Regions from separate parts of the Homo sapiens genome. Here region 2 is linked to region 1. A link means that fine-mapping ties the variant in region 1 to the expression of a gene that starts in the linked region. Tissue or cell type: lung. Region 1 holds a variant in brackets; the other region holds the start of a gene. All regions are shown on one strand. Distances are from middle to middle.

Region 1 (8,000 bases):
TTTTACATAGCATTGTGGAAGCTTAACTGTTATGTGTGTGGATTTTGTCTGTTTCTAAGAAAGTGCCAAAAGAAAAAAAAAGATCAAAATAACTATGTTTTGAGATTTCACAGTAAATCAAACTTCACTCCTTGTCCTGTGGCTCAGCAGTCTACGTAGCTGACTAGGCTTTTTAGAAGTGATTGGTTGTCCGTTAACCTGAGTGGATCTACACATACCCATGTAACTCCTTGAATGTGGAAAGTTTGTCTTTTGTGTTGCAGCATGCTGTAATTCAATTCTGACACTAACCACCTGGAGTTAGCATGAGACTCCACGGATTTAAGGTCATTGTCCCCAATAAGACTGCTTTCACTGTAGTTTTCAGGTGCAAATTTGAAGTTCCCCAGGCTGCAACTCTGGGGGTTCCTGTGACTCTGTCAGGTTCAGTAATAGGCTAAAACAACTCATAGAGCTCAGGAAATCATTTTACTTATGATTATAGTTTTATTATAAAGAATCAGAATGAGCCAAATTAAGATACACAGTCAAAGTCTCAGGGTGGGGGGCAGCCTGAATGTAGAACTTTTCTGTCCTCTCCCAATGTCATCAAGATGTGTCACTTTTCTGGCACATTGATATGTTCACCAACCAGGCAGCTCCTCCAACCTTCAGTGTCCATTGTTTTTATTAGAGTTTTATTATGTAGTCATGATTGATTGAATCATTGGCCAAGCAATTGAACTTGATCTCTAGTTCCCCTCACCTACCTGGAGGTTGAGCTGGTTTAAAGCCCTGTCCCCCTAATCACATGGTTAGTGTGACCAGCCCCCATCCTGAGTCATTCATTAGCATAAACCCAGGTGTGAACCAAGGGGCTCAAGAATAACAAAGACCCTCCTATTACTCAGGAAATTGTAAGGTTTTCGAGTCTCTCTCCCAGGGACAAAGGCCACATTCTTTGTTATAGACCCCAGTCTCTGTATTTTTTACTCTATAGCCTTGGTACCTTGAAAGTGTTTAAAGCACTCAGTTGTTGGTTTGATACAATTTAATATTTTTTAAAAAAGTTTTCGTTGTTTCCTTTGAATCTGCCAACCCAAGTTTACTTAGGAGTTGGAAACTTTCCATCTAATATGGGTTTCTATTGTTGAAAAAAATTATTCTGATACTTGTTAAAATGGTAAGGAAAACTTTACTCAAGACTATTGCACCTAGTGCAATAGCGGAGGGCTCAACTCTAACTACAACAAGGAGAAGGGGGTGGATTTATGGGTGAGGGGAATCAGTGGATGGAAAATCACGAAGAGGAGACATCAAAGGTAGGAGATTCTTGTTAAGGCAGGCCAAAGATTTATGTATCAAAGGTGGGAGATGAGGAATTTAATCATATATCAAGGATGAGGGGCTTCTTGCTTAGCTGACTTAGCAGGACTTTTGCTAAGACTGGGCATGTCCTGTCCTTGCACACCATGCAAGGACAGGCTGACATGAAAGGCCAAGGTTGAGGCCTAGTTGAGAAGAGGGTTCACAGCTGGTTAACTAATGTTTAGTCAACTAAAGAGCCTTTGTCACTGTCTATTAATGATGAACTTTATCTTAAGCGTGCATTGCATAGTGAGTTAGTAGCTCATCGTAGAAGAACATCTATGTAAACATATCTTAATATGCAAAAAACCTTTGTTCTAGGTTAATTCAGAAATATGCATTATTTAAAATCCCATTATATCTCCATTTAATAGACCAAGTATTGGTCTATTAAAATTCCTTTACTCTGGGATGTGGATTGTTATAGTTTTTGGTTGGAGATTTTTGTAAAGTCATTCTAAGTGTAAAAAATACAGAAATGGAAATAGCCTCTCAACCCAAAATTTCTAATAATGTAGTTTTTTTTTTTTTTTTTTGAGACAGTCTCCCTTTGTCACCCAGGCTAGAGTGCAGTGGTATGATATTGGCTCACTGCAACCTCTGCCTCCTGGGTTTAAGCAATTCTTGTGCCTCAGCTTCCCGAGTAGCTGGGATTACAGGCATGTGCCACCATGCCTGGCTAATTTTTGTATTTTTAATAGAGACGGAGTTTCACTACATTGGCCAGGCTGGTCTTGAACTCCTGACCTCATGTGATCTGCCCACCTCAGCCTCCCCAAAGTTCTGGGATTACAGGCATGAGCCGCTGCACCTAGCCTCGAATAATGTACTTTGAATTATCCTTTTCAACTGATGTTGTTTGTGTGTTAGCATAATGAAAAATGTCTAGCTTTTGTATACCATTAAGCACTTGTATTTTTCTGGCATTGATTAATCAGATTTTCACTATAAATATTACTAGTGTAATAATATATTAAGTAGACAATATTCACAATTTTAAAGGATAAAATACGACTTTTTAAGAAATATTAAGAAATATTTTTTATTAATTTTGGTAGTCTAAGTGCTCCTAAGTTAATTTTAAAAAATCACTTTTACTCCCTTTGTTAACACCTGGGGGAAGTAACACAGGATACATTTTTTGGGTTGAATTGTTGTGGAATACCACATTTGAAAAGTTTGGGATTTGATAATGTTTTGGAAGATGAGGGAGATTATTTACTATATATATGTGGATTTTCTGAAGTTCTTTGTTTTTGGTACATTGTTTGAAAAAATAATATTTTTTTAGAGAAGCTGCCCACAAAGCAGGTAACTGAGGTATAATTTTTATTATTTTGAATAGCTTACTTAAATGGTAATAAGAAATTGCTAGTCTTGAGGAAGAAAGAATGAGTGGGTTAATAAGTTTATTTTTATAAAGTGTAAAGTACTATATAAGTAAAGTGTTCTTATGGCGAAGTGGCTTTAGAATTTTACCCTGCATAGCAGAGGAGATTGGAGTTGGTTAGGTTTTATGGCAAGGCACATCTCTCTTGCTGTCCTTTTCCTGTACTGGTTCAGGAAGCTGGTATCCAAACAGTCTATTGCTCACATTTGTTTGTCATTTCTCCCTTGTTTTCATGGGGACATAGGCGCTGTGCTGCCATTTCTTATTTTCACCTCTATAGGCAGTAAGACAATAATCTTCACTAGAGTAGGAATGGTCTGTATTGCTCACCATTGTAACCTTAGTGGCATGTAATAGGTGTTTAATAACTTGAGGTAGAAAATTTTATGAAAAACTACAAAATGTTAAATAGAATAAGATTGTTGTTTATGTTTGATAATGACTACTACCATGAAAATTCAGCTTAACTCTGTGGAAACTGACCATATTTCCAAGTCATCTCTTGCTATCAGATACCTCATTAAAACAGTTTTTCGGGGGTGAGGGGGGACAAAGGAGACTTACATTGAATGCGTATCCTGACTGGAGATGTGTGTGTGTGTGTGTGTGTGTCTGTGTGTGTATATACTATATACTATATATATATGTATGAGATATGTATATCTCCAAAGGGGGAAATATAAATATATAAAATTTAAATATAATACTTAAATATAATATTTAAATATAAATATATAATTATATTTATATTTCCCCCTTTGGATGTATCTTATATAAATAAATATATATTTATAGATCTTATAAAAATAAAAATAAAAAT[A/T]TATATATGTATTTCCCTCTTTGGAGATATCTTAAAATATGGAGGAAACGTCTATTAGAATTGTAGAAATATAGTACTGTGGAGATTGGTTTCTTAGGTTGGAAAAAAGTTTTATTTTCTTGTTTACTTATTCTCATGTGTAGCTGCATTTCCTATCCACAGCATTGTGGAAAGTACTGATTCTCAATTCTTATGAGCAATTTTATTAACAAAATAGTAATAGCTCCATTATTTGACAGTCTGACCTATATGTCTGGGTTCTTCAGGCTTCTAGCCTACATCCACATTCTTCTCTACTTGTTCAGGCATTAAGAGAAGAATGTATTTCCTGAAATATTTCACAAGTGGACACAGTTCTTTCTATTCCGTGGGTCTTTTGGTCTGCCTATGGGGTCTTTTTTTCTTCCAAACTATTGAGGTAGTACTTGATCTCACAGTAAATCCCAAGGCACCTGCCATCTGTGTGTCAGGATTTCTCAGACTGTTGCCAGCTGCTGTCATCCCCAAGGCAGTGTATCCCTTAGTGATTTGCTACTGTGGTCTCTAAAGTTGCATGCCACTCTCTCTTGGGCATCTGGTATGTTTTAGATTCGTACAATGGAATACTGTTCAGCAACAAAAAGGAACAATATATCCATGGTGCTATATAGGTGATCCTTAAAACATTATTTTGTGAAGGCAGTTTTGTAATTTTCGCTAATATTAGAAGAGTTCCCTTCACATGTAAAAGAGTTTTTAACCAGTTTCCCAGATTTGCTGGATACCCCAGCACCAATATTTCTAAATAAAACTGTTAGTATTTGTATTATGGTTCCAAGATCCTGAGCATTTGTGCAAGAGGAAGTTAAAGAAGATGTGGTGTGACCATGTTCTTATGTTGTCCTTTCCTGTCTCTAATAAAGGACGGCGAAGTGTTCTTGTGGTATTTGGTTTGTGGAAGCAGTAAGTTACCATATCACATACTCTGTCTTGAACCATTATAAATATTCACTGGTAAAATATAGAAAGTTGTGTTTATTTATAGCTGAGTATGAGTTTACTATGCAGAGAACCTGAGTCATGGGCTGACTAGTGAATGTATCAAAAAGCGGAATGTGGGAATGTAAAAGGGTGCAACAACTTTGGAAAACAGTTTGGCAATTTCTTAAAAAGTTAAGCATCAACTTACCATATGACCTAGCAATCCCACTTGTAGGTATCTACCCATTAGAAATGAAAACATATCTACAAAAATACTTGTATATGAATGTTCATAGGATTAATCATAATAGCACAAAACTGGAAGCAATCTAAATGTCCATTAACTGGTGAGTGGGTAAACCAAATGTGGTATATACATACAACTGAATACTATTCATTAATAAAAAGGAACAAAATGCATGCTGTAACACAGATGAACCTCGAAAACATTATGCTGAGTGATAAAAGCCACATATAAAATACTACATATTGTATAATTCCATTTATATGAAATGTCTAGAAAAGGCAAATTTGTGTAGAGACAGATAGCAGATGAGTGGTTGCCTGGGTTTCTTGGTGGAAGCAGGGATTAAATGCAAATGGGCTCAAGGGAATTTGGGGGGTAATGAAAATATTCTAAAACTAGATTGTGGTGATGTTGCATAGCTATATAAATTTACCAAAACCATTGAATTATATGTATACTTAGAATGGATGAATGTTATGGTATGTAAATTATACCTCAATTTAAAAAAAGGGAGCATGAAAATGAATTTTGCCAGCTCAAGTAATAAGAAACAGTGTTTGACAAGGGTAGTCATTTGAGAAATGATGAAAGAGATTTAGAGATATAATCTTTCAGGTGAAAGGAAAAGGGTTTTGACTTGATTTGATAAACGAAGAAAGGGAACTCTTTCACTTTTGCCTTAATCTTCAGTAAATGTCAAAGTTAACATCAAGTATCTATTTAAATGTTTGCATTTCTCCACACTTTTGTACACTGTGTCTGGTGAAGTAAGTTGATGGTGTGCACTAACCCTTTTGGAATAGTTTATCAAGGATTTAATGTTTGTATCTTTTAATTCCACATACATATATATCTTAAGGAAATAACTAGAAATGCAAACAAGAATTTGTATTCAGAAATGTTCACTATAGCATCACATAGGGTAATCAAAAAATTAAAAATAACCTACATGCTCTCAAAGTAGGAGGAATGGTTAAATTATAGTTGATTTTGCTTTGTCTCTCTTGGTTTCAAGGAGTAGAAATTCTAACTAGATTAAGTAAAATTGGGCTTTGTTGAAAAGGGTAAAAGGTGCTCTAATAACCCCAAACAGCAAGATCACTGAGGCCTTTTGGCAGTGGGGAGCCAGAGCTACTTTCCCATTTCACCCGGTTCAGGGACCAGGCTAGTCACTGCTTCTTCCTCTGTAGACCTGCTTTGTTCTCAGCTTCTTCTTCAGCCAGTCTTCCTTGTACATGGCTCAGTGTTGTTTGCCACCTTGGACTTACTCAGTTTTTGTTAAAATTCACATATTTCCAGAACAGGAATCTGAAAGAGCTGTTCTTTTTGAGCCTTAGGTGGGTCAGTGAACAACCTGTGGTTTGGTCTTTTTCTTCATCCCCTTCCAGGGGTCTGTATTTAGGTTTAGATAGTTAGTGAAAATGAAATGGCACTGGGTAATGACATTGATTCAATACATCTTGGCTAGGCACACTGGCTCACGCCTATAATCCCAGCACTTTGGGAGACTAAGGCAGGTGGATCACCTGAGGTCAGGGGTTTGAGACTAGCCTGGCCAACATGGTGAAACCCCATCTCTACTAATAATACAAAAAAACTAGCTGGGCATGGTAGTGCACACCTGTAATCTCAGCTACTCTGGAGGCTGAGGCAGGAGAATCGCTTGAACCCGGAAGGTGGAGGTTGCAGTGAGCCGAGATTGCACCATTGCACTCCAGCCTGGGCAGCAACAGTGAAACTCTGTCTCAAAAAAAAAAAAAAAAAATCTCATAGGCTTATACGAGGAATGGCAAATATTGGCCATTATTTATTATCAATTTAAAAATATTTCTAAGGCCTTTGGTGGTGGCAGCCTCTTTTCTTGATTCTCTCAACAGAATAGTGTACATTTGTGGTAGATTCATGCTTATTTTCTTATATTTCCTTACCAAAACTTGAAGTCAGGATATTACCCCTTCTTATTAAAACCTCTTTTACTAAGACTGGCAATTGAAATCCCATTGGATGCCATATTGGGCACTGTGGACCAATCTCCACCTCCTGTATGCCCCCTCTTTCTGATGTGGCCACGGTGAGGTCACTGTCTCCTGACCTGCCCTTACCCCACTCATGTCTGCCTTAGTGGATCTTCTTCCTCTCCTCATCTTCCTCTGCTGTTGCTCTGTGCCTCATCCTCCACTTCTTTTCTCTCTGTATACATCCTGTACAGTGTTTTGTACCTCTGTGACTTTAGAGACCCTTTCTATCCCCAAATCTCTGTCTCTGTCCTAGACCCCTTCTGCTGAGATGGAGTCTCTCATAACTACTGGCTTATCGAATATCACACTCAGAGATATCACCAACTCTCCTTTTCTTTCGAACATTCAGAATTTTTTGTACCTCAGTTTATTCTCTGCTATAATTATGTACTGTGCCTTATTCAATTTGTATTCCTGGTAGCACCTAGCGGAATTCCTTGCACAGTGGGTTTACTTAGTATTTGCCCACATGAATATTTTTATTTTTTAAAATGGGCTATTATCCTTTGTATGGGGTTTTATTTTGTTCCCCTACTATCCTGAAAAATACCCACAAACTTTTTTTCTAAATCTAAGAATAGTTTCTAACATGGTTTTTGTGGTCAGGGGGGAACAAAACCCCTTAATATTAATGGACATACATGTTAATAGCATTTCTAAATACATTTGGGCATGTGTATTAGGGCCTATATGTTTTCTCTGAGAATAAGGACACACAGCCTAGTGAGTTTTGGACTCGAATCCTATTATATGTGAATTTTCTTTCTTTCTTTCTTTCTTTTTTTTTTTTTAAGACAGAGTGTCACTCTGTCACCCAGGCTGGAGTGCCATGGCACAATCTCGGCTCACTGCAACCTCTACCTCCTGGGTTCAAGTGATTCTCCTGCCTCAGCCTCCTAAGTAGCCGGGACTACAGGTGCATGCCACCACACCTGTGAATTTAATTTCTATACTAAATATACTATTCCAAAAGAAAGAAATGTTTATTGGAAAATGCAACCAATTCAGAAATATGCTTTGTAGACAGTGAAAGTTTCAATTATTTTGTATAGACTAAATTAGATTATAGAGGTTCTTTGGCTGGGCACTATGGCTCATGCCTGTAATCTCAACACTTTGGGAGGCTGAGCTGGGTGGATTACTTGAGGTCAGGAGTTTGAGACCAGCCTGGCCAACATGGCAGAACCCTTCTCTATTAAAAATACAAAAATTAGCTGG
Region 2 (8,110 bases), 170 kb after region 1:
AAACGAAACATAATCATACACCCATGTTGGTCACCATTGAAACTTCCTTAGGGCACAACTCATTTCCTTAAAAATTGTTAAAGGATCAAGCATTTATCCTGCCTTTTCTTTATGAACTGTATTTCAAGGTAAACAAACAGCTGATGAGACAATGCCTTTTTTAATAGGTGGATTCCAGGTAATAAATGCAGAGAGAAATGATAAAAACAGAAAATCGCCACTGTGCAAGTACTAGTGAAGTAATGGACCTGGGCAATTATCACTAGGTGCTAAAGCCGTCATGTGAAAGGTTGATGAGGAATCAGGGTGATACTATTTTCGCCAACTTGTCAATCTTAGAACAGTAGAATATTCAGACATTATGATGTAATGAAATAGGAAGTAAACTGAACCTGAATCTAATCAAGCCACTAGATCAGAGCAGTCCAGTATATATACATACATATACAAGCTACAAGCTGCATATGTAATTTAAAATTTTCTAATAACCACATTTAAAAAGGTAAAAAGAAACTGTTGAAATAAATTTTAATATCTTTCATTGAACCCAATATATGCAAAATACTATCATTTCAATTATAACCAAATTAAAATTAAGGAGATATTTTACAATTTTCATATTAACGTTTCCAATTCTGGTGTGAATTTTACACTCACCGAACATCTCAATTCTGACAAGTCATATTTTAAGTGCTCAACAGCTACGTGAGGATAGTGGCTATTATGTCACAAAATGCAGCTCTAGGGATGAGGACAGTTTACAGAAGATACTTGAGGATACAGGAGCAAGTTAAATGGCAGTTTAAGAAAGCAAATCCAGGATGTGGGAAACTCCACAGAATAGATGACCTGGTTTCTCCCTTCACTCATCCCTCCAAAATAGAAATCAATGGCAGAAAGAAAAAAGAGGGAGGCTGTTGTAGCATAAAATACTTAAGGGACATAACAATAAAAACAGTGTAGGGTTTTGTTTGAATCCTGATTCAACTACCAATGATCAAAAAACATCCGAGACAACTGGGGACATCTCACTGCAGATTCAGTATTTAACGATATTAAGGAATTATTGTTAGTTTTGTTGGATGACATAAATACTGAAATATTTAGGGAGAAAAAACAACTTGCATTTGATTAAAAAAAAAAGATGTAGGAATAGACTGATCATGACTTGATATTGGTGAAGCTGAGTTATGAGTACATGAAGCTCTTCATACTGTTTTATATATAAAATACATAGTTTGACAATTCTCATAAAGTTTTTTTAAAAAGTACTCACTGGCTGTGCACAGTGGCTCACATCTGGAATCCCAACACTTTCAGAGGCCAAGGTGGGAGGACTGCTTGAGGCCAGGAGTTTGAAACCAGCCTGGGCAACATACTATGAGACACCCGTCTCTACAAAACATTTTTAAAATTAGCCCGATATGGTGGTGTGTACCTGTACTTCTAGCTATTCAGGAGGCTGAGGTGGGAGGAATGCTTGAGGCCAGGAGTTCGAGGTTACCATAAGCTGCTAAGCACCAGTGCACTCCAGCCTGGGTGAGAAAATGAGACCCCATCTCTAAAAGGTAAAGAAACTATTTTTTTAAAAAGCATCCACTTGATCTAGAATACTAAATAAAGGGCAAGTTCCTCTGAAGTTCCATGATTTGCCCTCCTATGTTACACAGATCAGATGAGAATCACACTATGCATAATGTTAGTATGGCCACTGCAATCAGGCAAATAGGATTTTTTCTCTTTTTTTTTTTGAGATGGAGTCAAGCTCTGTCGCCCAGGCTGGAGTGCAGTGGCACAGTCTCGGCTCACTGCAACCTCCACCTCCCAGGTTCAAGCCATTCTCTTGTCTCAGCCTCCCAACTAGCTGGGATTACAGGCGCCTGCCACCAGGCATGGCTAAATTTTGTATTTTTAGTAGAGATGGGGTTTCGCCATGTTGGTGAAGCTGGTCTCGAACTCTTGACCTCAGGTGATCTGCCAGCCTCCGCCTCCCAAAGTGGGATTAGAGGCGTGAGCCACCACGCCCGGCCAGGATTTTTTTCTTAAAAATATCTAGAAGACCTTGCTAGAAGTGTTGGTAGTAAACAAAACCCTTTAAGCTACTAACGTTCTCCTGTGTTTTCTTATTTCCTTTCTCTAATATTCATTTCCTAATATAATGAAATGTAAATTAGATTTTTATTTCCTCTTTTCACTTTGGAAGGCTGTCAAACAGCTTACCCCAACTAACCTGCAAATAAAACTCATTTTATCCTAGCAAATTTGAGGTAAAGTATATACTAACATGGTAAATTATACATGTATTGTCTTCATAATATCATAGTTGCCCATTCAAACACTCTAGCAACTATTACTTCCTGTCTTGAAAGAAATAAAAATAATTGGTCCTCCTTTCTTATTTTCTCTGAAAAGCTTCCCCAAACTCTCCCAATCCAACTTAATGCGAGTAGACTATTTTTCCACTTTGTTCCACTCATTTCGCACTCCTGATAGAATTTTCTCTTATCCCTCTAATCTCTTATTTAGGCTTATGTACCCTCTCCAGAAGTTCTGTGTTGTGTCACTTACTTCCCCACAGAGATCTCTATCTCAAGGAGACCAATTCAAATGATATTCAAATATATACCTCCAGTCCTGGTCTCTCTCCAAAACCCTATTAAAACTACCCAGTGGACATTTTCCTACAGACATACTAGCATCCCTTCACATTGTCTCAAGCCAAATTAATGTTATCACTATATCAAAACCTCTGAACGTCCCTGTTTTTTTCACCCTGACATGCAAATTAAACATCTCTTTTGACTTCCTTTCCCTTGTTTTCCTTAATTAATGAAGGCCTGTCCATTTTTTCCTTAACATGTTCGTACCTTTCCATTCCTCTGCCACTGCCTGAGTTGAGGTTCTTTTCATCTTTACAACCAGATAACTAACATAATTTCCTAATTTACTTTCTCACTGTCTATCTTCTTTCCCTATACTATTATAGTACTCTGCCAACCACTGCCAAATTAATTTTCCTAAACTATCATTCTACTTATCCAATCACCTTGTTCAACAGGGTTTTAAAAATGAAATCAAAACTCCTCTGCTTGATATTCAAGGCCCCTCATGTTCTCAAATCAATGTATATTCCCAGTCTTATCTCTTGTAGTCCCTAAATGAAACAGTTCCTCTTGCTCAATTTATGCTCCTAAAAACAAACAAACTTGGCACCATTAACAACACAATTTCCTTAACTCAGAATATTCTCTTGTATATAAATAAGCCTTCCTGAAAGTCAGAAATAGGATCTCCCTTTCTTGAACTTTTATAACACTTAATTGTATATATCATTCATTTTAAGTTAACGACCTCCTCACCTATACTGTAACTCTTTAATGGGTACCTGTTCTCTTTCCCTACACCGAAAATTCCTTGAGAGCAAAATCATGTCTAATTTAATTTCAAGCATCTATTGGGTATCTGGCCCCACAATGCCAAGAGTATATTTTGTTGATTGTTAATTAATCATCTTACTTTATTTAATACAAGTAATAGCTTTTCCTTGTTCTACTATAAACAGATCTGTACACTTTCTGGTGGCTGTATGCACCAGTCTAAACATATGGGTAGGGTCCAGTAATTTTTAAATTTTTTCTCAATAAACTCACGATAGCTACCATTTATTAGTGATAGCTAGCTAACCACTGTTAGGCACTTTACACGTGTATCTCATTGAATCCTCATATCCACCAGTGGTAGGCACTATTATCTCCATTTTACGGAAGAGAAAACTACTACATCTTGGAGATTAAATGTCTCTCCCTTCTCATGTTATTATCTGCCCTTTCCCCTCCAAATCAATTCATATCATTTTTTCTAAACCTTTTCACCTTTTACTCAACTAATCATTCGTTTTGTTTATTAACGACTATGTGCCAGGTGTTGTGCTGATGCAGGAGACAACCGCGAAGATGGGGACAGAATCAGTAACATCGACGTAAGGGAATTGAAGCAGAAGATCACGCTGCCTGCAGACACCAGGAAACGCCAAGACCCCCCTTCCACGAACCAACATTCTTCCACCCTCTCCAACTTTTTTCTGGAACCCCTTCACTTCCAACGCCACTCAATGTACACTTCACTTTCTCGTGCTCTTCCTAAGAGAGTAGTGTTTTCTTCCTCCCCACCGAGAAAAAAAATAAAAGCAACAACTGGAACTTCTTCCTTACCCTGCCTTGTCTGCAGACCCTGGAGGCCCCTTCCATTTCCCCTTGTCCTTTTCCTTGTCTTTTTTGGTTCCCGCCGCAGTGGTCGAGTCGCCCTCGAACACGCTGAACAGCTCATCTCCGAATGCGTCCGCCATTTTTGGGAGCAGTGAGAGCAAATCTCCCTCCTACCCACGATGCCCCGCGACCGAAGACAGTGACGTCTCGTGAAGGCTCAACAGTGGCCCGCAGGAGACAAAAGTAGTCGAGTCGCGCAGCCGACAAAAATGTTCCCCTGACTTTTTTTTTTTTTCCTGCTTTTCTTTCCTTTCCTTTCCGACCTAAAGTGGATAAGCTGCTCAGTGGATAAAGAGCGAGGGCGGCGCGTGGCGCCTGGCGTGTGGCAGGCAGCTGGCGACTCAAGGAGGCGGAGCCTGCTGAATTCGACCAATTGCGAGGCAGCGGTCGCCCCGGCCCGAGAAGCCCGGATCGAAGCGCAGGGTGGCAGCCCCGGAGCCGGGGAATGTGAAGAGCTCTCGGCTGTGCAGTGGTACCGTCGGGGCCTGGGCCGCGAAGGATCTTCTGCCACAGCTGCAACATGGGCGGCAAGAACAAGAAACACAAGGCTCCAGCGGCCGCGGTGGTCCGGGCCGCCGTGTCTGCTTCCAGAGCCAAATCTGCCGAGGCTGGAATTGCCGGGGAGGCCCAAAGCAAGAAGCCAGTGTCCAGGCCGGCCACCGCTGCCGCTGCCGCTGCCGGCTCCAGGGAGCCCCGTGTCAAGCAAGGTACGAGAGGTCCCCCAGCCCCTGGCTGTCTGCCCTGAGACCTTGCTGCTTGTCCTGAGGAAAGGGCCTTAGAACCCGGGAGGAGCTTCGGGCCCAACATTTCTATTTCCCAACACTCGAGCTGCTACCTCCCCATGGGGTGGCCTTGTTTTAGATTAAAAAAGTCTAAGCTCTTTGGGCCTCCAAAATTCTGACAGTAGCCCTGTTGCAGCCTGGCATTTCTCTTTTAACTCACACTTCTCCCCCTTCTAAAAACAAAATAATTGCATTAGCTCCTGTTTCAGCAGGAATTCATCCTGAGCACCATCTCAGCTAGCTAGGCTAACGCAAAGACGAGTACTGAGTGGAGTTCCTGACCTCCTGGTGCCAGCCAGCCCCATTTTCTGTCAGTTTTTCATATCATTTTCAGCAACAATCTAGTGTCTCCATGCGTTCTGGAAAAATCAATACTTAATAAAAATTACAGGACTTACACACTGGTTACACACTGGTTACGTGTAATCTATTGTAAAATTGTCTGCCCTCGTTTCTGCCGCCATGCAGTTTTGCTTACTGTACAAATTGATTTGACAACTCAACTTATAGATGGCCGATTCCTGCTGCAGATGAGCAGGCCACATATTACGGTTGAGCTCAAAAGATGAACAATTACATTCTGTTGTGTTCTTCTCGGGTTGTTTGCTTGTACTTATTGGAGTATTCAAGAAATATTTGCTGAGCATTTATGTGTATATATGCAAATATTTAGTATGTGTCTGATAAGATGTGAGGAATGTGATGAGCAAAAAGAGACATCACCTCATGGAGCTTGCCAGTCTAATGTCAGAGATAGGTATTAACTAATAGGTAACGCACACAGACATATTTATAGCCTTATAATAGATAAGTGCCACAAAGAAAAGCCAGGGAAGACAGTTTAACAGGGTAATCTAATTTTTCTCGGGATGAGCAGGTATCATGGATGGTGTCTGGAAATGTAACAGTTAAGCTGAGATGAGGAGAATGAAAAAGGAGTTAACTCTGTGAAGCATGGCAGAAATTAGTATTCCAGGCGGGCGTAATGAACATCATGTGTAAAAAGTTTGAGTCAGGAAAGAGCTTGGGGCTCTTGAGGAATTCACAGAACATAAAGCATCGCCAAAGGATGAAATGAGATGAGACTGAAAAAGTAGGCAGGTACCAGACCTTTACCTAGAAGGTGGAAACAGTTCTTTGCCCTGCGATTTATTGTAGTGTTAGCTACAGAGTTAGCATACTTGTAATTACAAATACATAGAATTTCTCCCTGACAACTATGGCAGTTTTATTCTGTGGATCAGCCTCTTTTTTACTTTTCCTTTGTCTTTTACTGACATTCCTCTGAATTTGAACCGATAGTCATTTGTTGTATTCTTTGAATTCCCTTTCCTCCAGCCCCAAACTGTGACCCTTTCTCAAGGTGTCAATCCTTGACAGTATAGTTCACTCCTAAAGCCCTTCTAGGAGTGTTCATCTATTTCCATTACTTCTATCTTTTCCTTTGTAGATGGCCTCTCTTCCAAGCTCAAGTTGGCAATTTATACATTTTGCTGGATTCTCTGACCCTATTTTTTGCAAGCATCTCAAATTTAACAGGGCTAGTACTAAACCACTCTTCTTTCCCCAAACTAACTTTTTCTTCGACTTCCTTGTTTCTGTTTTTCCATATTTCACTTTGCATTTGTGTAGTTCACATCCTAGTCTTGGTACCTGTGAATTCCTGGAGTAGCAACGAAGTCTTTTAATAGGGCTCCACAGCTGTGCTCATTTTGCTTCCTCCAGTTGGTCTTGCATATCAACATCAGACTGATCTTCCAGAAATGCTGCTTTGGTCGTAACACTTCCTATTTTCTTCCATGGCATCCTCACTGACTTTGCAATAAAATCCAAATCATTTAGCTAGCTTCTAAAACCCTCTTTCTAACCTTTTAATAATTCCTCTATTCAACTATAGCAAGTCTGGTGTGTTTTCATTTCTCCAAATGGAGCTCTTAGCTTTCTCCTTCCTCGTATTTATTCTTGCCATGTTTTTCTTCATGGAGTGCAATCTGTCCCTAACATCATCTACCAAAACCTTAAAATACCCATTTCAGATAACAACTTCCTTTTGAATTCTTCCTGCTATTCACAACTGACGTATCATAGTTGTTTAAATCATTCTTTTTGATAGTTAGTTCTTGCCTTATGATATGTAAAGAATTATATGTTTTATATATCCAACAAAATTACAGGAGGTAGGAACAGTTTTATGGATATGTGTTAACATTTCCCCAGTATCTACTCTAGTGCTGTGCATATTGTCATGAAGAAAATTACTTGGATAACTGGTAAGGAAAGTTCAAAGGAATTATTAAGACCAAGAAATCAAGAGAAAAAAACTAGAGGTTATCTACTAAATTTGCACATAACTTTTGGGTTTATTTTAGGGTGCTTTTAATATATAGTATAACGTACAATAAACCTATTTTGGAGAAAAAAGTGGAAAAATGCTCAACTCTGTGTAGTTCCTAATGTAGATGTAATGGTTCTACTCTACTTCCGTCCCTCCTTATCTTTCCAATTTGACGGCACAGCTGGTCAAAATTGTCCTCTATCGTAGAGGTTCAGAATCACCAAATGGCTTGCACAACAAGTAATACCAGTCTTGTTTTTTTTTTAATTTCATTTGCTCATGAAAGAATTTCTGAAGAGGCCGAATAGGGAGGAGGGTGGGGAGAGGTTCAGTATTAAATAGGATGGTCAGGGAAGGAAGGCATCATATAAGAAGGTGGCTAGGCGCAGTGGCTCACGCTTGTAATCCCAGCACTTTGGGAGGCCGAGGCAGGCGGATCACGAGGTCAGGAGATTGAGACCACGGTGAAACCCCGTCTCTACTAAAAATATAAAAAATTAGCTGGGCATAGTGGCGAGCGCCTGTAGTCCCAGCTACTCGGAGAGGCTGAGGCAGGAGAATGGCGTGAACCCGGGAGGCGGAGCTTGCAGTGAGCTGAGATTGTGCCACTGCACTCCAGCCTGGGTGACAGCAAGACTCGGTCTCAAAAAAAAAAAAAAAAAAAAAAGTGACATTTGAGCAAGCAAAGGAGGCAGGTAAAGTAGTTACACAGATGACTGGGTAAAGAG

The links. PIP is the estimated chance that this variant, and not a neighbour inherited with it, causes the effect.
Region 2: it holds the start of MTREX, and the variant in region 1 is fine-mapped to the expression of MTREX in lung (TOPMed, PIP 0.95).

Annotation. Positions count from the first base shown.
Region 1 is chr5:55,477,553-55,485,552 of GRCh38, reverse strand. All of the region lies in intron 1 of PLPP1 (phospholipid phosphatase 1), which reads left to right. Among named protein-coding and RNA genes, the nearest start is that of MIR5687, 27 kb to the left of the region's middle. The variant A/T (reference allele first, on the strand shown) is at 3,558.
Region 2 is chr5:55,304,249-55,312,358 of GRCh38, reverse strand. It overlaps MTREX (Mtr4 exosome RNA helicase), which reads right to left and starts at 4,370. Exons shown (of 27, transcript NM_015360.5): 1 at 4,212-4,370. The coding sequence starts at 4,345. DHX29 (DExH-box helicase 29) reads left to right here and starts at 4,665. Exons shown (of 27, transcript NM_019030.4): 1 at 4,665-4,972. The coding sequence starts at 4,786. LOC124900979 (a long non-coding RNA gene) reads left to right here. Exons shown (of 2, transcript XR_007058774.1): 2 at 3,922-4,210. RefSeq lists enhancers at 4,117-4,596, 4,737-4,996.